Linked DNA regions of Homo sapiens. The protein of the gene in region 5 purifies or fractionates together with the protein of the main gene of each other region. This does not show direct contact. Each region holds a gene or a part of one and is shown on either strand. Other genes may lie near its edges.

The links.
Region 1: the proteins of ANKRD28 (region 5) and SNX18 purify together in Homo sapiens (affinity purification with mass spectrometry; one large-scale study listed by BioGRID and IntAct). This does not show direct contact.
Region 2: the proteins of ANKRD28 (region 5) and PIP purify together in Homo sapiens (co-immunoprecipitation; one large-scale study listed by IntAct). This does not show direct contact.
Region 3: the proteins of ANKRD28 (region 5) and PLA2G4A fractionate together in Homo sapiens (co-fractionation; one large-scale study listed by BioGRID). This does not show direct contact.
Region 4: the proteins of ANKRD28 (region 5) and ARHGAP29 fractionate together in Homo sapiens (co-fractionation; one large-scale study listed by BioGRID). This does not show direct contact.
Region 6: the proteins of ANKRD28 (region 5) and PPIP5K2 purify together in Homo sapiens (affinity purification with mass spectrometry; one large-scale study listed by BioGRID and IntAct). This does not show direct contact.
Region 7: the proteins of ANKRD28 (region 5) and RAB40C purify together in Homo sapiens (affinity purification with western blotting; one study listed by BioGRID). This does not show direct contact.

Annotation. Positions count from the first base shown.
Region 1 is NC_000005.10:54,520,759-54,524,258, forward strand, and holds part of SNX18 (sorting nexin-18), read left to right. Parts: exon of another isoform or gene 1-288; intron 289-3,500.
Region 2 is NC_000007.14:143,137,658-143,140,239, forward strand, and holds the end of PIP (prolactin-inducible protein precursor), read left to right. Parts: intron 1-1,417; coding exon 1,418-1,532; intron 1,533-1,860; coding exon 1,861-1,985; 3' UTR 1,986-2,082; downstream 2,083-2,582.
Region 3 is NC_000001.11:186,835,449-186,838,948, reverse strand, and holds part of PLA2G4A (cytosolic phospholipase A2), read right to left. Parts: intron 1-3,500. UniProt on the Homo sapiens protein: Has primarily calcium-dependent phospholipase and lysophospholipase activities, with a major role in membrane lipid remodeling and biosynthesis of lipid mediators of the inflammatory response.
Region 4 is NC_000001.11:94,231,085-94,234,584, reverse strand, and holds part of ARHGAP29 (rho GTPase-activating protein 29), read left to right. Parts: intron 1-2,941; 5' UTR 2,942-2,973; coding exon 2,974-3,178; intron 3,179-3,500. UniProt on the Homo sapiens protein: GTPase activator for the Rho-type GTPases by converting them to an inactive GDP-bound state. Has strong activity toward RHOA, and weaker activity toward RAC1 and CDC42. May act as a specific effector of RAP2A to regulate Rho.
Region 5 is NC_000003.12:15,791,480-15,794,979, reverse strand, and holds part of ANKRD28 (serine/threonine-protein phosphatase 6 regulatory ankyrin repeat subunit A), read left to right. Parts: intron 1-3,500. UniProt on the Homo sapiens protein: Regulatory subunit of protein phosphatase 6 (PP6) that may be involved in the recognition of phosphoprotein substrates. Involved in the PP6-mediated dephosphorylation of NFKBIE opposing its degradation in response to TNF-alpha.
Region 6 is NC_000005.10:103,172,301-103,175,800, forward strand, and holds part of PPIP5K2 (inositol hexakisphosphate and diphosphoinositol-pentakisphosphate kinase 2), read left to right. Parts: intron 1-854; coding exon 855-982; intron 983-1,557; coding exon 1,558-1,672; intron 1,673-3,500. UniProt on the Homo sapiens protein: Bifunctional inositol kinase that acts in concert with the IP6K kinases IP6K1, IP6K2 and IP6K3 to synthesize the diphosphate group-containing inositol pyrophosphates diphosphoinositol pentakisphosphate, PP-InsP5, and bis-diphosphoinositol tetrakisphosphate, (PP)2-InsP4.
Region 7 is NC_000016.10:621,066-624,565, forward strand, and holds part of RAB40C (ras-related protein Rab-40C), read left to right. Parts: intron 1-3,500. UniProt on the Homo sapiens protein: RAB40C small GTPase acts as substrate-recognition component of the ECS(RAB40C) E3 ubiquitin ligase complex which mediates the ubiquitination and subsequent proteasomal degradation of target proteins.

The DNA.
Region 1 (3,500 bases), on a different chromosome or scaffold from region 5:
TTCCCCTTCCAAATGCGTGACTGGTCTTCTGACTCCTATGGGGGAAGGGGCTTGCTGGGAGAATGATCAAACGTTTTCAGTCTTGTTGCTGCCGCTGAAAGGGAGTACCCTGGACATCAGTACTAATTTTAGTAGACAGTAGTAACTTTCTTGGCAATTTGCGATTTGTAAATGCAGTCTAATATTGAATTCGTTTTTTGTGCAATCATATTGCTGTTGGCCTGTATTAAACCTGTATTTACATTACCTATGCCTTTTTTTAAAACATAAATTGTTATGAATCTTTGACTTTTTTGACTGGTGTTGGTGGAACTGCCTTTGTGAGCCTTTAATGGAGGGATTTAGCATTTAAATTCCATTGTGTTACATCATTCTGGACCTATGCTGGCTGCCCTTTTACACATTTCTGTGAGTTTGTGCAAATTACTGGTGAACAGTTGAAAGGATGGAACCAAGTACAGACACTTGGACATGTGTGCTGGGCCGCTGGTGTCTGTCTACTTTAGGTTGGCATCAGTTCATTCACTGTCAATCACACCATGCACTCAGGCTTTGTCAAATGGCCTGCTTTTGAAATTATATATTAGAAAAGGTATGGTGTGTGTTCTAATATCTATTTTGAGTTTACAGCAATGGTCTACTTAGTCTATTAAACCATCTGGTTATGGCCAGGGTCACGCCTGTAATCCCAGCATTTTGGGAGGTCGAGGCAGGAGGATTGCCTTAAGGCCAGGAGTTCGAGACCAGCCTGGGCAACATAGGGAGACTCCCTTGTCTACAAAAAATAAAGAAGTTAGCGTGGCATGGTGGCTCATACCTATAGTCCTAGCTACTAGGGAGGCTGAGGCTGGAGGATTGCTTGAGGCTAGGAGTTAATTTGAGGTTGCAGTGAGGCATAATTGAACCATTGCCCTCCAGCTTGGGTGACAGAGCAAGACCCTGTGTCCAAAACAAAAAATATATAGCTTATTTACTTCTTTATTTATTTTGTAGAGACAGGTGTCTTGCTATGTTGCCCAGGCTTGTCTCTAACTCTTGGGCTCAAGCAATCCTTCCAGCTCAGCCTCCCGAAGTGCTGGGATTACAAGCGTGAACCACCATGCCCGGCCTAGTTTATCTTTTTTAAATTATAGAACTGGATTTGTCTCTAGTCACTTGGGATTTGAAAAACTTCCTTCATTAAAACCAGTATCATTTTATGTGGCTTAACAGATTCAAGAGCACTAAACATAATCTCTAGGAACTTTGGAAAGAACAGCAGTTGATATTCAGTATAGTTTGTTTCTGCTGTAACCTTGGTGTGTAATGTACAGTGAACCTGTGTCCCTGGATGACACATCTTTAGAAAATACTACCATTTAAAGTGACAGTGTGCGATACATAAGGCTAAAAGCATTTGCCTATAACCAGTGTTTATCAAGGATGCTAGTGTAGGCCATTTTTAGGAGTATAGATGAGACAAACATCATAAGCCAGGATAAAAGCTTTCTGAGCGTATTCAGGACTTGTGGTTGTAAAGAGCATCTCAATTCCGTCACCTCCCCAACCCCAACTGTTACACACTTGAAATATGGCTAATGTGACTAAGGAACTGAATATTGGTCAACAGAAATGATAGAACTTTTCCATCAGTGCTGAAAGTTCTATTGGACAGTGCTGTGTTAAACTGCTGGCTGCAGTTTAACTATCAACCCCATCGTAAGTTTCTCCAGCAAATTATTATATTTTAATATAGTTTCCTGATAGCTTTATTTTTACTTGGTCATCTCATTGCACCTCCTCCTTCCCATATAGGCTTAATTAATAAAAACTGGGAAGGGGGAAGCAAGTCCTGCTAGATTCTTCTTTGCTGAATTTCCCAAGCACTCAACCTGAGTGACATTTCAGTAGCGTGAGCATCTCTTGCAGTGTGCCTTTATGTCCCATTCAGAAAACACATTGGTTACGGGATGGATGTCTGAGGCCATCCTGGTGAGAACCCAGCTGCAAAATGAGGGTGGAAAACTCAAATACTCTTAAATGTTGGTGGGCTGAAATTTTCCTGACTATACTAAATACTGAACCCATTCTTTAAACTAATAATGGTTTTAGTGTACATACTTTCTGCAGAAGTGAAGAAAGCGATATACTTCCTTCAGCCAAAAGAGAATTCTGGAATTTTGATTTTTTTTCATCAACGGATGGAGTCTAACTATTTAGGTTAATGGAGTTGAGCGAAGAAAGACGGTAGTTTGCTGTAGTCTGCGGTACATTAGATGGGAATTCAGAATCTATTGGAATTTTATTTGTGTTTTGCTTTGACCTAATAGGAGTCCTTTAAGTTCTTTGTTCATAGGTAGCTCATCAATCCCTGACTAGGCAGTGTGCAGATGTTTGTCACTGACATGTAACCCCTGTGGTCTTGATTTTTTTTTTCTTAAGTGATAGCATTTTATCTTCTCCCTCCTTATCATGCCTGTCTGCAGTATACCTTTATAGTGTTGATGTTGAGGAGTTTGGGTAGTACTGAGGAATATATTTTATTATTAGTTTCTTGGCATATTCAGTTTTGTTTCCAAAGATATGATCAATCTCTAATATTTAATAAAGCTAAATCTAGGTGGCAGCAAGTTGAGGTTTAAAAGATTTAGGTTTACCTCTTGCGACTATTGCTAAAAGGAAGACTGTAAAAGATTATGAGAAATACTGGTTTCATCCTTGTTTAGGAATTTGGACTAAATAAAAATGGCTAGAGGGAGTTCCTTTAAGTGAAATGTCTTTCTTCTAGAGAAAAGGTGTAAAATAGTGTTAAATTGATTTGTCGATTTGGGCTGTGTGAAGCAGGGAGGCAGGACTAGATAAGTAAATAGGCAGTCCTGTTTTCTGTACTCTTAAATATACAGACTCTACTTCATCGCTCTCTAAATGTTCCAGATGGAGCCTTTTTTCAATAAAAGCCCCAGGACCTCAGGAATGGTATACCAGTAGTGGGCCTGTCAGTCTTGCTGGGTAGAATTTCACCATTGTGCTTCCTTTTACCACTAGTAGAGTTGGCCTGATGTCCTTCAGACATTAATTAAAGATAGCTGGAGTCCCAGCAGGGCACACAAGGTAAGGCTGGGCCACACGGAGACCCTTCCCTGTCTGCTCCCCATTCTCCTGTAGCTAAAAATAGCCCTGAAAGGGTGGTGCCAGGAATACAGAGAAAAGCTCTAAGAAGTTGGGGCTGTTTGCAAATTCATCCTTATTTTTGAAACCTCTGGGCTAGAAATTGAGGCTGTTCATTCTTTTTGTTTTCACTCCATCTTTAGTTGAACCCATTTCTCCTCTCCCCTGCATTTACCCCCAGCTGTTCTCTAAAAAGACCTCATGTCTCTAAAAAGAGAACAGGTCTGGGGCTTACCCTTTGCCCCAGTTTGTGTTTTCTTAGTGAAAATAAGGTGACCGTTGGTGCTTTCGAAATACACGACTCAGTTCCTTGGTTAAAATATAAATGTGACTGCCCAAGGACAGTCTTGGGC
Region 2 (2,582 bases), on a different chromosome or scaffold from region 5:
GGGAGGCCAAAGTGGGCAGATCACCTGAGGTCAGGAGTTCGAGACCAGCTTGGCCAACATGGTGAAACCCTGTCTCTACTAAAAATACAAAAATTAGCCAGGGCTGGTAGCACGCACCTGTAATCCCAGCTACTCAGGAGGCTGAGGCAGAAGAATCACTTGAACCTGGGAGGCGGAGGTTGCAGTGAGCCACGTTCGCACCATTGCACTCCAGCCTGGGCAACAGAGTGAGACTCTGTCTCTTAGAAAAAAAAAAAAAAGGGAAACAAGGCACAGGTAGTCTTCTCCAAAGAAACGCCAGGATTCTCCAAGGCATTCTGAGTAAAACTCCAAGGGTGAGAACACCTGAATTTACTGTTTAGGTCTGAACGGCTACTTGATGCTGAGTTGCCAGGTAGCTGAGCAAGCTGCAGGAGGTGGGCAGAATGGCACTGGGCCTCAGTCGTGACCATGAGCCAGTCTGATAACTGCCATACATTCAAGGTAGTACATTCAGGCTGTATTTCGGACCTCTGGATCCGTGCAATGATATGTACATATCTACTTTTCTCCTTGTGATAAAATCACACATACTGCTAATGGCACTGTGGTTCCTTGATGACATTCATAACAGAAGGAATGCTGAATTTCAATTAGAGGTTAGTAATAAAGATGCATATTTTTCCCCTGCCTGAGTCCACAGACTCACTGAATGCTATCCACAGATCCCTCTGGGTCTATGGACCCCAGGATAAAACTGCTGTGTTAAACGTTAACTGGACAAAATCCTCTGACTCCACTGAAATTTATATATACAATAATCTGGGATCTTGAATTGCAAAGCACTCAAGTTAAAAAGAAATTTACATTCAAGATGTTATTTGCTTATCTAACAGCCAGGTTTGGTAGTTAATTGTTTCCACCTCATACCTGAGGAAAGTGAGAGTGAGAGGCCTCTCATCACCAAAGGTCACCAAGTCAGAGAGGAGCACAGATGGGGCTTGGTCACAGCTCTGACAACAAGGCCTGACATTGGCTCCTACACGCAAGTGGCCAGGCTGCTGTCTCACCAGGTCTCAGAGTAAACGTGATTGCAGGTCGATTCCTGAAACCTCTGGCTGGTGACTAAGGCAAGCCTGCTCCTCAGCTGGACAGCTGCCCTGGATGAGCTCTCCTTGCCCTGTGGATTCACTTGCATCCCTATCTCCTCCTGAGCTTCTCCACACTGCTAAGGCAGGAGTTTGAGGGCATTGGAAGGGAAAACCTTCTGACCTAGACTTTGGCTCCTGAAATGATACTACAACAGTAGACTCCCCCTTGCCCTAGGCCCACCTCCACCCCCACTCTTCTCCTCCGGCTTTTCCCTCTCCTATTTTTCCCTCCCTTACCCATTCCCCAAAATAACAATGAATTCCCCCTCCCACCTTCTCCTCACCAGGTTAAAACTTACCTCATTAGCAGCATCCCTCTACAAGGTGCATTTAACTATAAGTATACTGCCTGCCTATGTGACGACAATCCAAAAACCTTCTACTGGGACTTTTACACCAACAGTAAGTACAGAAGTTGTCCAAGGAGGGAACTACCCACCAGCCACCAGGGAGGAGAAACTATAAACAGAAACATGGCTGCGAACCGAGCAGGACCAGGACCTCAGGGCAGAAGGACAGAAGGGAGGGAGGGAAGAGCATGGGGAGAGCAGATGGGGAAAGCACCCAGGTTCTAAGACAGAGGCATTGAGTGCAAAAAGTTGATACAGGAGACAAATTTGCAAAGGATTTGGGGAAACTGAACCCCAGGGGGCAGATGCCTGATATGAGTAGAAAAGACAGGACATGGCCGGGGTGTCTGAGAGATGATCTCCGTCCCTGTCTTTTTCAGGAACTGTGCAAATTGCAGCCGTCGTTGATGTTATTCGGGAATTAGGCATCTGCCCTGATGATGCTGCTGTAATCCCCATCAAAAACAACCGGTTTTATACTATTGAAATCCTAAAGGTAGAATAATGGAAGCCCTGTCTGTTTGCCACACCCAGGTGATTTCCTCTAAAGAAACTTGGCTGGAATTTCTGCTGTGGTCTATAAAATAAACTTCTTAACATGCTTCTCCATGTTCTGTTGTATCTCCAAAATCTGCTCCTGAAGAACCCCAGATTACCTGAAATTTCTAGAACATTTGTCTTTCAAAGAACCTTTACTGAGGAGATTGTACGGGTTCTCACTGCCCATTGGTATGAAGAGGGAGAGAAGAAGAAACTGGGAAGAGGAGCTATGCTCACAGAGAGGAAAAGCAGTGGCCCTAAAGTTCACGGCACAGGAGTGGCAGAGCCAGGGCAGGCACCAAGCCTCCCTGTTGCTTGACCTCTCTCCATCCCACTGCCCTCCAGCAACAGCTCAGATCCCAGAAGACAGGAGTCCTGTTGCATGCAGCAGAGTCAGGGATGGAGTCCATGGCCCCCTAAATGAGCAGTAGCATTCTATGCTATTCTGTTGCTTGTTTTCAATGGATTGTGACACTCAGGGATATCAGGGTCCTGTGCAGCTCTGCCTGAGGAGCTCAGGCATAATAGAGGAGTAAAGGGGCAGAGGGAGCCCTGAGGGGCT
Region 3 (3,500 bases), on a different chromosome or scaffold from region 5:
AGTGACTTTTAGATGCAAAATGAAAGATTTATGTCAGGGTGAAGAAATACATCCTGAGAGCAGGGCTGTGAAAGATCCTTTTTTTGGATGGTCTATTATTATCACAAAATGTTTTACACATCTTTACATTGTGGAATTCTAATGATTCGAAGTCTATAAACCCTTATCTTAGGGAGCACAAAGACCAAGGAGTATGCTACAACTCAGAAACAAGTACTTAGCTAGGAGTCCAATAAAAGCAGGGAGGCAAACAGTTAATCATTCAGAACTTCAAAGGACAACAGCAACAAGTCTACCAACTAGAACATGAAGAAAAAAAAGGTTCCAGAATGATGGCTCCTGGAACAGGTAACTGGGCTTCACTGAAGTGTACAAAGAGGCCTAGCAACTGGCTAGGTAATGAATCCAAGAGTTGGGAAAGAACAAAGGCTAAATTCCCACCTACTAGAGCTGGAAATCAGCCAATTTTGGACTACTTCCTAGTAGTCACTAATTACCTTAGATAAAGGAACTCTGTTCTACAGACTCATTCATTTTTATGAATTTTTGTTTAGATTTGGTTTTGGTTTGGGTTGTTTTTTATTTTGTTTTGCTTAGTGCACTGGTTATCCATTTTATGGATTTTTCTTTCTGTCTTTAAAAACAATTTTTCTTTCTGTCTTTAAAAACTCCCACTCTAGAGAAACCATCTAGCTTCTTTGCTCTTAGCATTTAAACATGTTGCAGAAAAACAACATACCCTGGAAGGCTAGTTTTAATTTAAGTCCATATTCTCAAAACCCACAGAGGTTCTCTACACTACAAGACATCTTTCTAAATTTCTTTGGTGGACTTGTATTCCCACCGGAAAAAGTCACTTTATTCCCTTCTCTCACTCAAGTTTCTCACCCCACCCCAACTCCCACTCTTAGCAGGCGACCTCATCTTCCTTCACTGAGAAAGCAGAAAGCACCAGAGGGAAGTTTCTCATCTTCCCACCATCAAATCTGCGTATTTCCCTGCAGGTGCACTTGGGTTCCCCTTCTCCCTGCCACAAAGGAGGCAATGTTCCTCCTACTGTTACAGACCTGGCACCACCATGGCTCTCTGGATGCAAAATCCCTCTCCTCAAGGACTTTATTTTTGATGGTCACGTCTCTCTTTCCTGAATCATCAAATTTTACTTTCCTTTATTTTCTTTTTTTCTTTTCTTTTTCTTTTTTTTTTTTTTTTGAGACGGAGTCTCTCTCTGTCGCCCAGGCTGGAGTGCAGTGGCGCGATCTCGGCTCACTGCAAGCTCCGCCTCCTGGGTTCACGCCATTCTCCTGCCTCAGCCTTCCAAGTAGCTGGGACTACAGGCGCCCGCCACCACGCCCGGCTAATTTTTTGTATTTTTTTTTTTTTAGTACAGATGGGGTTTCACCGTGTGAGCCAGGATGGTCTTGATCTCCTGACCTCGTGATCCGCCTGCCTCGGCCTCCCAAAGTGCTGTGATTACAGGAGTGAGCCACTGAGCCTGGCCCAAATTTTACTTTCAACTGGATAATCTAATTGGCAAACTTGTTACAGTCTGTCTGTCGACTCCATATTCCTTTTCCCTGCTATGTCTCCATTTGGTTGCTGTGTTTCACTGACAGACTTCTCTGAAGGGTTATTTGCTTACCCTGTATCCAGGAGCCAGCTATCCTCATCACGCATTCCTCCCATCCCATTTGTAAATTCCTTCTTCCTTCTTCTGTCTACTCCCACCACTCCATTGAACCTGCACTAATCAAGATCATTCATGATCTCCAAATTTCCAAATGTAGTAATCACTTTTCCGTCGTCATCTTATTCAACCTCTTTCCTCTAGAACCACTTTCCCTCCTTTGCTCCCACAACATCACCCTAATACCTGGTTTTCCATCTAGTTTCTTAGTTGCTTCTTTGCAGGCTCATTAACGAATGCCACTCTCTGCCTGGAACTCTAGCGTGAGCCTTGCCATTCTCACTCTACTTACCGCCTCCCGTAGATGGCTTTTTATCCGTCACATCTGTGCTTCAATTCTATGCCTCAGAGAGCCCTTCCCATTCTCCGCCTTTGCATGTTATTCTCTATCATTGAAGCCCATTTGCTTTCTTTTATAATTTATTATCTGTTTGTTTGTATACTTATTATCTGTCTCCACTAAGACGGAATGAACTATACCTGCTTTATTCACCCAGGTATGCCCTAAATGTAGCACAGTACCTAGCATGTAGCTGTTATTAATTAAAACTGACTGAATTAGCGAAGGAATAAATGCATACTGCTCAGTGACCAACAATTCCTGATTGACATTAACATCTGCATTTCTTGACATAGGAGGCAAAATTGGTAAGTGAAAAAGAAGAGTAGATATTATCTAAATAGCTTCATACAATACCTGTTCTTTTTCTAAGTATTAAAAAATTGCATTTTCCTACTCCTACTACTTTTCTAAGTATACTATATGTATTAATAAAATGGTATATAGAAATTATTTTTTCACAGAAACTTAAAATTTATATGAGAGCATCCTTTTCATTGTGATGATAAAAAGTGCTTGAAGATTCTTGTTATCTGTTTAAATTACATCTTAGATTGACAATTGGCTTGGTTGATTAATATCTTATGTACATATTAATATATAATAACAATCAATATTATTATTAAGGTATATTATATGTAATATATGGTGTATTGAATAACTAATGATTTACCTGAATTAATTCATATTGATTATTAATTATATTAATGCATAGGCTATATATTAATACTGGGGTATTAATTCATATAAATAGCTTATTAATACTTATTAATACATAATATATTGATCAACCAAATCAAATTTGTCAACCTAAAACATATTTTAAACAGATTGTAACAATTTCTGCAAACAGTGAATGAGTGTCACAAATTTGATTCTTTCTTTTATTGCTTTTCATTGACAACAAAGGCATCATTACAGAAAGTAATAAAGGTGAGAGGGAAAAAATGCATGTAAATATTGTGAAGCTTTATATATATAAAATGTAAATCTCTGGTTGTCACCAGCTCAAAAATTAAGTACCAAGTAATAGATTATAAGTAAGCATCCAACAGATTTGCAATTAAATCTTTAATTTACCAAGAAGCCTCTTTTAAATTAGAATCGCTGCTGTGACAAATCTTTCTAAAATGGGTTAGTGGCATTGTCTTCTAAGAACCAGGGATATAACAGTATTTTAAAGTTATTATCTGAACATGTATTACCATTGATCATTGAAAGTGAACTACAGAAATTTCCTAGTGTTCTCTCTTTGAGATCTAAGTTCATGACGTCAGCAAATTTAAAATTCATCCACCTCTTCTTCATGGCAGTTGAATGAAAAGAAAGTTGATAACCTGTTTGAGGTTTGTGGTAGACACAACAGTGGCTAATGGATATTAAGAAATCATAATGATAGACGCAGCAGTCTATACAGAATGATCCCATAACTGTGTGCATCTTTAGACACTTTTCCCTGATTGCTTTTCAATA
Region 4 (3,500 bases), on a different chromosome or scaffold from region 5:
ATGTAGAAGTTAGATTCTCAGAAATAATTTGAGATTGACAAAAGGACAGTGAATAAACAAACTTTAAAAATTATAAAGTGTGGTCCCCAGTTTAATAATCAGGAGGAGCAATAATAGAAATCCAACTTTGATTTCAGTTTTATGTAATCTTCCCTCAGCTTCATATACTTTTCTTTTTGAAACATACCATTTTAGAGAGTTTTTTAAAAATTTATATTTTCACTTCAAAACATTGCAACAACCCAGAGTTATTTTTGTTTCTATAAAAATTAATTGAAACTTTATAAGTTTATAAGCCTATCTGCAGATAGTTCTAAGTAGTTCATTCCTCATACGCCAAGCATTGTGCTATGATCAGAGAACACATGGTTAGCAAATAGACATACATGGTCTTGATTTCCATGAGATTATACTCTAGCTAGGAAGACATGATCTATTTGAACTGTGGTATGAGCAGTGATGAAAAGTAGAGGATACTATGGAACATCTCACAGGAGATTCTACTCTGGTTTGATGGTAGTGGTTTTGCTGGGGGATGGGGATGGTCCAGGAACGTTTCTTTGAGGAGGTAAGCTTTGAGCTGAGATCAGAGTGAGTAAACAAAGGAGAAGGAATATTCCAGGCAAATAGAATTACATATAGACAGGACCCTGAGCTGAACAGTTGGTGTTTTTCAAACTGTAGGGTCATGACCTATTATGTGTATGAAACCAAGTTGGTGAGTTGCACCCAGCATTTTTAAAAATGAAATGGGATGGAATTTTTAAAAACTCACATACATCCCATGGAGCCTTACCCAGAAGCATGCCACACACAAACATAATACACTTAACATGTATTATTATGTAAAATTATTTCCTGGTGAGAGTCATCGTAAACAAATACTGTTGGAAGAATGAGAAGGAGGTGTGTGTGGCAGGAGTGTTGAGAGCCAGCAGGTGTGTCTCCATATGACATTGCACAGGTAGGTAGGAGCCAGATCTCATGTTGAGCCTTGTAGAGCATGATAGCTTCTCACTTATACTTTGGAAGGGTTTTCAGTAGAGAAATGACATTATGAGATTTATGTTTGAAATGTTCACTCACTACATTTGTGATGAGACAAGAATGGATGCAGATAGATCATTAGGAAAGTAGTATAGTAGCTCAGAAAAGAAATGATGGTAATTCACTAGTGTGGTAGCAGTAGAGAGAAGTGGGTTGATTAGAGAACCCTGTAGATCAGAAAGAAAAATGAACTATGGAGTTGGGTGAGATATAGGAAGGAGTAAATGATACAATAATGTATCTTACATATGACTAGAAACGGATATTACATAAAACTTCCTAGTGGGCCAGGCATGGTGGCTCATGCTTGTAATCCCAGCATTTAGCTAGGCTGAGGTAGGAGGATCACTTGAGCCCAGGAGTTTGAGACCAACCTGGGCAACATAGTGAAACTGTATCTCTACAAAAAAAAAATTTTTTTTTTAGCTAGCTAGGTGTGGTGTTGTGCCCCTGGAGTCCCAGCTACATGGGTGGCTTTGGCGGGCAGATGGCCCGAGCCCAGGAGTTTGAGGCTGCAGTGAGCTATAATCACACCACTGCACTCCAACCTGGGTGATAGCGTGAGACCCAGACTCAACCCTTCCCCCCTCCAAAAAAAAAAAAAACCAAAAAACTTTCTACTGTAAATTTTATAGAAGTCCTTAGTCATCTACCATTTTTAAAGTAGCCAAATATTCAAGACAAAATACTTGAAAAAAAGTGTTAATAATAAAGTGTGAGTTAATTTAATTCCTCCGGTTATTTCCTTTTTGATTTCCAGAGATACAAACAAGATTAGAACTTTTAACTCTGGAAAGGTAAAATGAGGGTGAAGAAGAAAATAACTATGATTTTCTTGAGTTCCAGCTATGTGCCAGTATTAGGTGTTTTAACATATGAAGTCTTCTAATTTTGTGATCCCTTTTCATCCTCACACAAGCCTGTAAATAAATTGTACTGGTCACATATCTAGAAAATACTAGAGCCAGGATTCAAATCTAAATTCTTCTCATACCAAAAGATTACCTTTTTACTACCATCCTGAGATTATCAAAAATATTGCTCTGATGATCACACGTGTTTATTTAACCAGTCAGAGTATGTCAGATTAGTGGGCACCCTTGTAACTTATTTTCAACAAAGAAATATCCTTGATGAGACTTGGTAATCCAGGATGTGTTGTGTGTGTGTGTCTGTGTATATGTATGTATATGCATTATTAGGAAAAACTAACTGTAATTGAACTTCTATGTTCTCGACACTTCTGTATCATCGCGTCATGTAATCCCTACAATCTCATGAGATAGGTGTTGTCAGGATGTTACTCCCATTTTATAAATGAGCATACTGAAGTAAAGAGATGAATAGATCATACAATAAGTGACAGAGGAGGATTTTAAGAACAGGTATTTCTTTTTTCAAAGCCCATATCTCATCTTTATTTTTGAAGGTGATGTCATGGAAGGAGAATATGACCTTCTACTAAGTGATGTTTCAGAACAACTTTTACAATTAAATAAAATTCTATACCCTAGGAATCAAGAGGAAGTTATTAAGAGCATGGATTTTGGCATCAAGGCAGATACAGGTTTAAGTCCTAGTTCATTATCAGTTGAGAGCTTAAGGCAAATTTTTAACCTCTAAACCTCAGGTTCCTCATTTGTGAAATGTAAAGAACAGTAGTTTGCATGTCAGAGTTGTCGGAATTACTGGTATTTAATAAATGGAAACTGCTATTATCAATAATACAGTGATTGATTATTGATTTTTGATTTTTAAAAATTTAAAAATAGGATACCAAGGTGAGCTGTGGGCTGTTTGTGAAAATCTAGTGTAATATTTCCCTGGCTGATTTAGTTTTTGTGTTTCTTTCTCTCTCCTCGCTTGTTTTTGTTTTGTTTCTTGCCCCCTTAAGGATTTCAGTTTTTCTGACTGTTACATGAAAGGATGATTGCTCACAAACAGAAAAAGACAAAGAAAAAACGTGCTTGGGCATCAGGTCAACTCTCTACTGATATTACAACTTCTGAAATGGGGCTCAAGTCCTTAAGTTCCAACTCTATTTTTGATCCGGATTACATCAAGGAGTTGGTGAATGATATCAGGAAGTTCTCCCACATGTTACTATATTTGAAAGAAGCCATATTTTCAGGTTTGTCACTTTTCTATTAGCATTCTTGCTGGATAGTTTGTAAAATTTTAAATGCTGGCCTAGCAGATAAGTTTGTACACAGTGGTAGGAACAGGGTATTCTGCTTTAGTTATTTTAGTGCTTTTTTCCCCAAATCTTTGATGGTTACAGTGTAAACTATTTTATAATCAGATAATAGTGTAATACCTAATAGAAACTTCAGTGTGAGGGAATAAGAATACAAAAAAGAAAAATATCTTTGATTCCTGTGGTTGGGTCCATTTGACGTAGGAAAATTTGACATCATTGGAATTTTAACCTTTCTGTTAATGGTAACACAGTG
Region 5 (3,500 bases):
AAACATGCTGACTACCCATATACCTTTCACTTACTTTTGGCATTGATAACATTTTGCCACATTTGCTTTCTGTATTTATTAATATACAACTTTTACATATATATGTAGTAAGTTGCAGAAATCATGATACTTCACCATTAAATACTTAACTGTGCATTTCAAATGAGGATTCTTGTAAGTGTATATCTAAATATAAGATCAGATTTGCTTTTTGTAAATAATCATGGTGAGTGTTTTACAATGGTGCTTGATTAATTTTTGTCAGATTAGGTTTTCAGTAAAGTCATTGTTGGAAAAGTTTTCAGACTTAACGATACAGTAGTATATTCAGTGCTGACATGATGGACAGTTTTAGAAAGGTGGATATATGGATAATTTTCTCTCTCTGTTATGTTTTTTCAGTGGCCAGTATTTAGTTTACTAAGTTGTGGCTGAAAGTACATTACGTACTCTAACAAAATTACATCCACTAATGTATATATTTTTACCAGAAACAAATGTACCCCTGAGTTATGGAGGGGGTGAAAAGTCATATGATTCACAAAGTCGCTGTGGCAACACCAAAACAGATGACCTAGAAATGATTGTGGTTTTAAGAAAGCACCCATTGCAAGCTCATTTTTAACTCTCATCTTTCCTCCTTTTTTTTTTAATATAATACTGCTGTGACCACTTAATGTTAGGTAGATACAAAAAAGTTTTACCTTATTTTTAAAATAATGAATTATCTGAATAGATTTGAATCATTGGCTAAAACTGTTGTTAATTTTAACATTGGGTAATGAACAGAATGCTATCATTATATATTTTTTAAAATTTTTTCTAAGTGAATTGCCTTCAAGTTTATATTTAGTTGGAAACATGCACCTAATTCAGGATTTATGTATGTATGTATGTATGTATTTATTTAGAGACAGAGTCTGGCTCTGTTGCCCAGGCTGGAGTGTAGTGGCATGATCTCCGCTCACTGCAACCTCTGCCTCCCGGGTTCAAGCGATTCTCCTGCCTCAACCTCCCAAGTAGCTGGGATTACAGGCACCTGCCACCACGCCCGATTAATTTTTGTGTTTTTAGTAGAGACAGGGTTTCATTCACCATGTTGGCCAGGCTGGTCTCAAACTCCTGATCTCAGGTGATCGGCCCGCCTTGGCCTCCCAAAGTGCTGGGATTACAGGCGTGAGGCACTGTGCCGGGCCATGATTTATTTGTTTTAAATGAAGTGTCTGGCTACTTTACCCAGGGTATACTGAAGAGTATGCGTTTCTTAGAAAATAGCTCAAGGGGTATAGACGCATGAAAAGGTGGAAAACATGTTTTCCATTTAACTCCTAAGGTTTTCTTGTTATTTTGGTTTTATTTTAATAGTACTGACAAATACTACCTTGATTAGAAAGTTTGAACTATAATTCCATTTACCAGGGCTAATTTCTCCATCATTACAAAGTTTATTGTAGCTGACATTACTTTTATGTTATATTTAATCAATTTATCCTAAATTAAAAAAAAATTCAGAGTCATTGAGAGCATCAGCTCACTCATCAGTAGGCCTTTCTTGAGAGTAACTCTTTGACAATTGTCTTCAGTGATACAAAGGTTTTTGACAACAACTTTTATGATTGCTTTTAGGCCTTTTCTCTCGTGACCCTTTCTTAGTAGTTGAGAGTGTTGCCTTAAAGTCAAGATTTGTTAACTTTTTGGCCATTATTTGAATTTAAGATGGTAAATATCATCTGATTTTGTCTGATAAGGAATCATATGGGGTTTTAAAAGGCAATGGGTGTTAAATGCACTGACTTTTAATAGGTAATAAAATATTTTTAAGCTTTATGTCAGTGTGACAGTCGTGTTTTTCCAAAGTAAATTTATTTAAATAAGTATTTGGAGAATAACGTTGGACTTTTTGAAACTCAGGTTTCTCTTAAGTTTTTTGAAGTTGTTTTTATTCATTTTTAGAATGGATATAAGTTCAGATTTATTTCTCTACCATTAAATAGTCATTGTATAATTTTAGATGAGTTTCTTTAGTCACACCCTGAGGTTTTGAATATTGTAGACCACTAAACAGCACGTTTCTTAGTAACACACCTAATAGATTTTTCTTCTTATTTTAGTGGGTTTTAAAAAAAATTTGTGGGTACATAATAGGTGTCTATATTTATGGGGTACATGGGATGTTTTGGTACAGGCATGTAATGTGAAATAATCATATCATGAAGAATTAGGTATTCATCCCCTCAAGCATTTATCCTTTGAGTTACAAACATTCCAATTACATTATTTAAGTTATTTTAAAATATACAATTAAGTTATTATTGACTATAGTCACCCTATTGTGCTATCAAATAGTAGGTCTTATTCTATTTTTTTGTACCCATTAACCATCCCCACCTCCCACTCAACCCCCCATTACCCTTCCCAGCCTCTGGTAACCATCCTTCTGTTATGTCCATGAATTCAGTTGATTTGATGTTCAGATCCCACAAGTAAGTGAGAACATGTGATGTTTGTTTTTCTGTGCCTGCCTTATTTCGGTTAACATAATGATCTCCAATTCTATCCCTGTTGTTGCAAATGACTGGGTCTGTTTTTTTATGGCTGACGAGTACTCCATTGTGTGTATGTACCACATTTTCATTATCCATTCATCTGTTGATGGACACTTAGGTTGCCTCCAAATGTTAGCTATTGTAAACAGTGCTGCAACAAACATAGGAGTGCAGATCTCTTCGATACACTGATTTCCTTTATTTTGGATATATACCCAGCAGTGGAATTGCTCGATCATATGGTAGCTCTATTTTTAGTTTTTTGGGGGACCTCCAAACTGTTCTCCGTAGTGGTTGTACATTCCCACCAATGGTGAACAAGGGTTCCCTTTTCTTTACATCCTCACCAGCATTTGTTACTGCCTGACTTTTGGATAAAAGGCATTTTAACTGGGACAAGATGATATCTCATTGAGTTTTGGATATCTGATGATTAGTGATGTTGAGAACCTTTTCACCATTTGTGTGTCTTCTTTTGAGGAATGTCTATTCAGATCTTTTGCCCATTTTTTATCAGATTATTAGGTTTTTTCCTGTAGAGTTGTTTGAGCTCCTTATATTCTGGTTATTAGTCCCCTGTCAGAGGGGTAGTTTGCAAATGTTTTCTCTCGTTCTGTGGGTTGTCTCTTCACTTTGTTGATTACTTCCTTTGCTGTGCAGAAGCTTTTTAACTTGATGTGATCCCATTTGTCCATGTTTGCTTTGGTTGCCTGTGCTTGTGGGCTATTGCTCAAGAAATATTTGCTCAGACTAATGTCCTGGAGATTTTCCCCAGTGTTTTCTTGTATTAGATTCAGTTTGAAGTATTTAATGCATTTTGATTTGAATTTTGTATATGGCAAGAGATAGGGGTCTGGTTTCATGATTTTGCATGTGTTTATCCAGTTTCCCAGCACCATTTATTAAAGAGACTTGTCTTTTCCCAGTGTATGTTCTTGGCACCTTTGTCAAAAA
Region 6 (3,500 bases), on a different chromosome or scaffold from region 5:
TCTGTAATCAGTCAGCATTTTCTTTATTAGGCAGTTTTGAGATCTATTGTCTGTACTGATGTTATTCCATGTGAATCTTTCTGGAGGTATCTAGTAGCAGGAAATAGCCTTTAAGTTGAAATATCCTAGAATGAACTTGGAGAGAGAAGGTATATGTGTTTCTTTCCTCTTCCCTTTTCTCCCTCTTTCCCACTCTACCCCCACTTTTCTGCCTTCTTCCTTTCTCCTCTTCTACTGCTTTGAACTATAATTTTCATTGCAATTACTCTTAAAATTGCCATGTTTTCTGGACACTTCACATTGTGCTAATTCCTTACAAATCCAATTAACTCATAATGATTATGTCATTAAATTTGATAATTTCATGGAATCTTTGCTCACTTCCAGTTAAAACTTTAAAAATATTGGCCAAAGCCTTTTGAAGAATGTGTTAGTCTTTTAAATCTTTGACATTTGGAAAAACAGAAATCTCAAGGTTTAATTTTTTTCATATATTTATTACATATTGTGCTTTAGTGTTTGTGGCCTTAATCCACCTTTCTTTTAGGGTTGTTTTTACATTTAAAACCACTGATTTAGTGAATACTAGTCATAAAAATTACATTCACCCATTCATTCTCCGCCTTCAGAAATTACTGGCTTTTGTTCAGTTCCACCACAAAATCCTTCCAATTATACTTAATAGTTTGAAAATCATACATTTGCAGTTGCAAAAAATGCAAACTCGGAGTTATCCAACGTTCAAAAAAGGCTTGATAAAATATTTGTCTCTCACTAGACTAATTTAGGAGTGTATTTTTTTAGAGTACTTTGTCATTATATCCTTTTTCTAATGTCATGTATTTTTTGCTCAGGAATATGGTATAACTAAAGCTGAAAAACTGGAGATTGCCAAAGGCTACTGTACTCCTCTGGTTAGAAAAATTCGCTCAGACCTTCAGAGGACACAAGATGATGACACTGTAAATAAACTTCATCCTGTGTAAGAAACTGTACTGGTTATTTAAATCTCTAGGCATCTATTTTTGCATACTTCAAATTTAAATTATACTTTGATGGTCCTATGAAGTCAGAAGTGTGTCATTGGCATACTGTGAAAATAGTATTACCTAGGTATTTCTATTAAGTTCCAACCAAAGTTATTTTTGGCTCCACTTTAGAGAAAACTAAGGTGAGTGGGGAAAAGGGAATATAGGTCATCGTTCACATGGACCATCAATGTGTACCCCATTTAGCAGCATTAATGTCTGTGAGCATCTTTAGGTCTATAACCTCTGTCATTGCTACTAAAGGAGATAAAATAACCTATTTACAGTGTACTTGACTAATATTAAGTCTATTCTTTGACTACTCTCAGAGGTCCTAGTTAGTTATAGTTTGTGTCATGTTAGAAGAATATATACTAAGATAAATTCTCTATTGTGGTTGGAAGAATAATAGATTTTTGTGGTCTTTTACTTCTAGTGAAATTACATTTAATTTTAGAAAATAATTTCAATATTTAGTGAGTTTTTGATTATATGGTTATGTTTGAACACTGTCTGCTTCTAATTTTAGGTATTCTAGAGGTGTTCTGTCTCCTGAACGTCATGTTCGTACTAGATTATATTTTACCAGTGAAAGTCATGTACATTCTTTGCTGTCTATTCTTCGCTATGGTGCCTTATGCAATGTAAGTAGAATAAGTTATTTCAGTCTAACAAATATATTTAATTTTGTAATTAAATCACTAACTGCTATTTTTACTGTGAAATTTTAGTAATTCATCCTTAAGTTTTACTACTTAATGTCGTCTTTCAAGGGACTACTATATACCAAGCATTTTGCTAGATTTTAGGGATAAAGATGTTCTCTTCAGAGAAGATACATTTAAGCAAACAATAATATAAAGTATTTTAGGTGATTTTATAGACTGGTGGCAGTAAAGAGTAGCCTGATGAATTTGAGTCATTTAGGGGTCAGAATTGATGGAACTTGGTGTTTGGTTAGACATTGTACCACTGATCTACTATTATGTACTATCTACTATTATCTACTATTACGTAATGACATACCAAGACTTAGTGGCTTAAAACAACCACAGTCATTTCATTTTTATCTCATACAGTTTAGATTGTTGACTAGGATCAATTATGAAGTTTCTCTTAGAGTCTCATGAGGTTGTAGTCAGACAGTGGCTGGGTCTCAAATAATCTCAAGGGTTTTCTCTCATGTTTGGTGCTTCATGTTGGCTGTCAGCTGGGACCTCAGCTGCGGTTATCAAGCAGAACACCTACATCTGGCCTCTTCATGTGGCCTGCTTCCTCAAAATATTGCACCTGAGTTCCAGGAGTGAGCTTCCTATGAGAGCAAGGTGCAAGTGCATGGCATTTTTATGACCTAACTTCTAAAATCATGTAGCATCACTTCTGCTGCGCTCTCTTGGTTGAGGCAATCACAGAGGTTCATCCAGGTTCAGAAGGAGAGGAAACAACCCACAGCACCAGATGGGCTGAGTGTCCCTGTCCTATTGTAAGAAGAGTATGTAGCATTGAATGTGTATGTCAGCCATCTTTGGAAAAGACAAAATCTGCCACAGTGATACCTATTTGCCACAGTAATTTGTATTCTTCCCACATACAAAACTCAATTCACATCTCCCTCAGTGCCACCCCCTCCACTCAGTGCCATGCTGTAATAGAGTAATACTACTTGAAGTCCAGAATCTCATCTAAATCAGTCATCTCTAAACTAGCCAAAAGATAAGAATGTTCTTTTATTTTTCTGTGCGTATATTGGTATACGCATCTGTGCACGTCTGTGTAGAAAGTGATCTATAAAAGAAAACTCAATTTTGTTTTCTTAATGTACTTTTAAAAGAAGGGCAGTGACATATATAGTGATGATTTGGTATAGGTCTGTTTCCTAATCAATCTTATTACTGGTCCTTGAGAGTAATTATTATCAAAGTGATCCTAAGGGTGTTTCAAAGTTCTGTTCCAATTAAAATTCCAAATCCATATGTTCTTTCTTCTGGTTTTTTGTTTCTTCTTTGTCCCACTAAAGAATAGAAAAGTGACATCCTTACATAAGTATGTGGATTAGTGGGAAAAAAAATGACCCTTAATTAGCAAGGCAAAAAAGCTTGTATATCCAGTAGTATTGATGGAATTGTTTGTGAAGAGGAGCGATACATCTCTTACATGGTCCTTTTTGACATACATAGAGGGTATAAAGATCATGAGTAATATAGGAACTGATAGAAAGCCTGTAGTTGGAGAATAGTAGTAAGTATTGGATAAAATGACAGCAGATATGGTTGAAGAGCCAGTGCCTTGTATTCTAATTGGATTGGGAAGCCATTTAAAGGTTTTAAGCAGGGAAATGGGTGGCTTTGGTTATTGTGTGGACAGCAGATAGGTGAAAGTGGGTATGAGGAAACCAGTTAGGAAATTATTACAGTGGTCCAAAAAGATGTCATTTGGACTAGGGTGGTAGCTGTGGATCTAGAGTTTTTTGGG
Region 7 (3,500 bases), on a different chromosome or scaffold from region 5:
AACTCTGGAAATTCTGAGCTGTCATTTTCCACATGCGAGGAGCAGGTTACAGACCCAGGTGCACATGTTGGTCCTGGGTTGAGGGTGCCAGGTGCTTCCTTGCCCCGGGAGAAGCACCTGAGTCTCCAGGCGGGCCTCTGACCGCCGTGACTGAGCATTTGGGCCACCCCGGGAGCCCAGCCCTGTCCTGTGTCTCTCCTGCCTGGTGAGCAGCGGTGAGGTGCGGGTGCATCCAGCCGAGGTGCAGAGCCCAGGTTTGCAGCAGGGTTTCTCCCGCCGCCCCTGATGAGACACAGACTAGCAAGGACTGTCTGTCCCAGCCGGGATTTGTCACTCTGCCTCCCTCCGTTAGAGAGTGGAGAGGCCTGGAAGGTCCCCGCGGCCTGGGTCTTGCAGATGGCACCAGCAAAGGCCACCGGCCACTCCCCGCTGCCGTCACCTGTCACACAGCAGCAGTCCCGCGGCTCTTCCCGCGAGGCCCTTCACGTGCCGCCGAAGGCCGGGCTCCCTAGACTTCATGGTCGTGTTTGCATATTCTGTTGCTGTGATCTGAGACGGCCCCTCTCAGAAGCGGGTGCCACAACCCGCTGGTGGGATGAGTGGGTCACCCAGGTGCAGGTCCCTTGGTGTGTGGAGGGTGGGGTAGGCTCCTTGTAACTGCAGTGTGGCTGACGGGATGTGCCATCCTGTTTAGCTGAGAATTTGGGGTCAGCGGGCTTAGTGCCAGGAAGGCTGTGGCCAAGTGCCATGTCTGCTTCAGGACAAAGGTGTGGATTTGTTTCCCTGAGAGGGGGTTTATGTGGAGCGTGGTACGGGAGGCACACGTGCTGCTGGCTTGTCGGCACACAGGTGGGCGGGTGGATGTGAGTGGGCGCGGCTTGGCAGTAGCTCCCATTTTACATGTCAGTTGCTCCTGGGCAGAGCCTGGGTGCAGGGATGCAGGAGGAGGGCTTCACTCTCGCTGGCTGTACCTTGGGAGCTTCAGCCACATGGGTGGAAGGGGCATGTGTTTGTCAAAATTCATCAAAATGTTCAAACCTCGGATCTTTGTATTTTGTGCTTTGTAAGTTACAGCTCAGTAAAAAATGATAGCAAAAAGGACACCCACTCTTAGGCCCAGCAGTTCTACTTCTGGGAATTTATCGTGTAGGTCGAGTTGATCAAAAAAAGGTGTAAACGTGCTCAGATGCATATTGCCACCGTTACCCAAGAGCTGGCGCAGTACCAGTTCACGAGCAGGCGGGGGTGCTGGGCCTGAGCTCAGGGCGTGCGGGTGGGAGCAGCGCCAAGTGCCTCCACCCCCTTGACCCCGCCCGCGAGGCATGAGCGGCACCGTGGACACGTCTGTAGACGCTGAGGAAACTGACTGTCAGGGCGGCTCCTAGAGGGGCCTAGAGCAGGGCGAGCGCGCGTCCTGACTCATCCCCTAGAGCACTCGCTCGTTCTTTTGTTTTGTTTTTTGAGACACGGTCTGGCTCTGTCGCCAGGCTGGAGTGCCGTGGCGCGATCTCGGCTCACTGCAACCTCCGCCTCCCGGGTTCACGCCATTCTCCTGCCTCAGGCTCCCGAGTAGCTAGAACTAGGTGTGCACCACCGCGTCCAGCTAATTTTTGTATTTTTAGTAGAGACGGGGTTTCACCATGTTGGCCAGGATGGTCTCCATCTCTTGACCTCGTGATCCGCCTGCCTCGGCCTCCCAAAGTGCTGGGATCGCAGGCGTGAGCCACGGCGCCTGGCCGAAGTCGCTAGTTTTTTAAAAATCAGATCAGTTTTAGAAAACAGAAGGCAGTGGAAGAGTCTGTTTGTCCCGTGCTCTGCCCCTTGAGACACGCAGCTGAGGGTGCTTAGGGTGCCGTTCGTTAGGCGGCTGCTGGTCACCGAGAGTCTCCTTTTGGTTTCTCACTCCGTGGTCATTTGGGTCCCTGCGGCCTCACTGTGACCCACGCCGGAGCAAGCCTCCGGGTCCTCCTGTGCCATCGCCCCTGCCCGTAACCCCTACTCCTCAGACATGGCCATCCCAGGAAGTGGGGGCCCGCTCAGGGCAGCAGCCGGGAGGTGTGGCCAGGGCCCCCCGCGTCACAGCACACTTGGAGCCTGAGGCAGCCCATCAGCCGGGAGGCGGGCCTTCTGCTCTCTTTCTAGAGTTTTCAGTGTCATGCGAATAGGGGTGTTTGCCACAGAAAACAGGTCAGCATCAAAAGTTACCCCTCTCCAGCCTTTTAGCATTTGTTTTATGTCCATATAAACTTCTTCAGTGTAATGTGTTGTGTGTTCATACTTTTATTTTTTAAAAATCATGCTGGGCCGGGCGCGGTGGCTCACGCCTGTCATCCCAGCACTTTGGGAGGCCGAGGTGGGCAGATCGGGAGGTCAGGAGATCAAGACCATCCTGGCTAACACGGTGAAACCCTGTCTCTACTAAAAAAAAATACAAAAAAATTAGCCGGGCATGGTGGCGGGCGCCTGTAGTCCCAGCTACTCAGGAGACTGAGGCAGGAGAATGGCGTGAACCCGGAAGCGGAGATCGTGCGGCTGCACTCCAGCCTGGGCGACAGAGTGAGACTCCGTCTCAAAAAAAAAAAAAAAAGAAATCATGCTGGGCTGGGCACAGTGGCTCACACCTCTGATCCCAGCACTTTAGGAAGTTGAGGCAGGAGGATCACTTGAGGCCAGGGGTTCAAGACCAGCCTGGGCAACATAGCAAGATCCCATCTCTAAAAAATGTTTAAAAAAACTTAGCCAGATGTGGTGGTTCACACCTGTATTCCCAGCCACTCAGGAAGCTGAGGCTCAGAATATCAGGCTGCAGTGAGCCATGATCGTGCCACTGCATGAACCCCAGCCTGGCTGACAGAGTGAGACCCTGTTTCAAAAAAAAAGAAAATGCCATCCGCAGTGCTGGGACCTGCGTTCTTACCTCACCTGGGTTGCACATCTCTCCTTGGCCAGCATGCACGCTTTTACATGCACTGCTGCTGTCTTCAGCATCTGCACGGTACATTTCACTGCCGCTTACTCAGCTGTCCCCTGAGGCTGGACATTTAATTTGTGTCTGGCTTGTCGTTGTTATCAGCGCCACTGTGACACACATCCTCAGTTACTTCTGAGTTGTGGGCTTGCCATGCGGGAGGTTGCCATGCGGGAGGTTGCCACTAGGGAGAGTGGGCTGTGTTGTACGCTTTGGTGGCCCACTCCCCAGTCTCTCCACCTCCCCCAGCAGCAAATGAGCCAGCCCCAGTCCCTGTGCCCCAACCTCCAGGGTTAACCCCTGGGTGTGCATTTGTTTATTCTGAATCTTATCATTTATCGCCCACCAGACTGACTTGGCCATCTCTGGCCTCGAAGGGTCTCCCTCAGCGAGAGGTGTCCTTCCTGAGCTGTCGCTCCATCCTGAGCAAGGCCTTCGCCCTGGGAGCTTAGTAATGTCAACCTTGTTCTAAACAGGACCTGGGGCTACACTTCAGTCTTCCAGATATCGAAAGATGGTTCTAAGAGGCTCT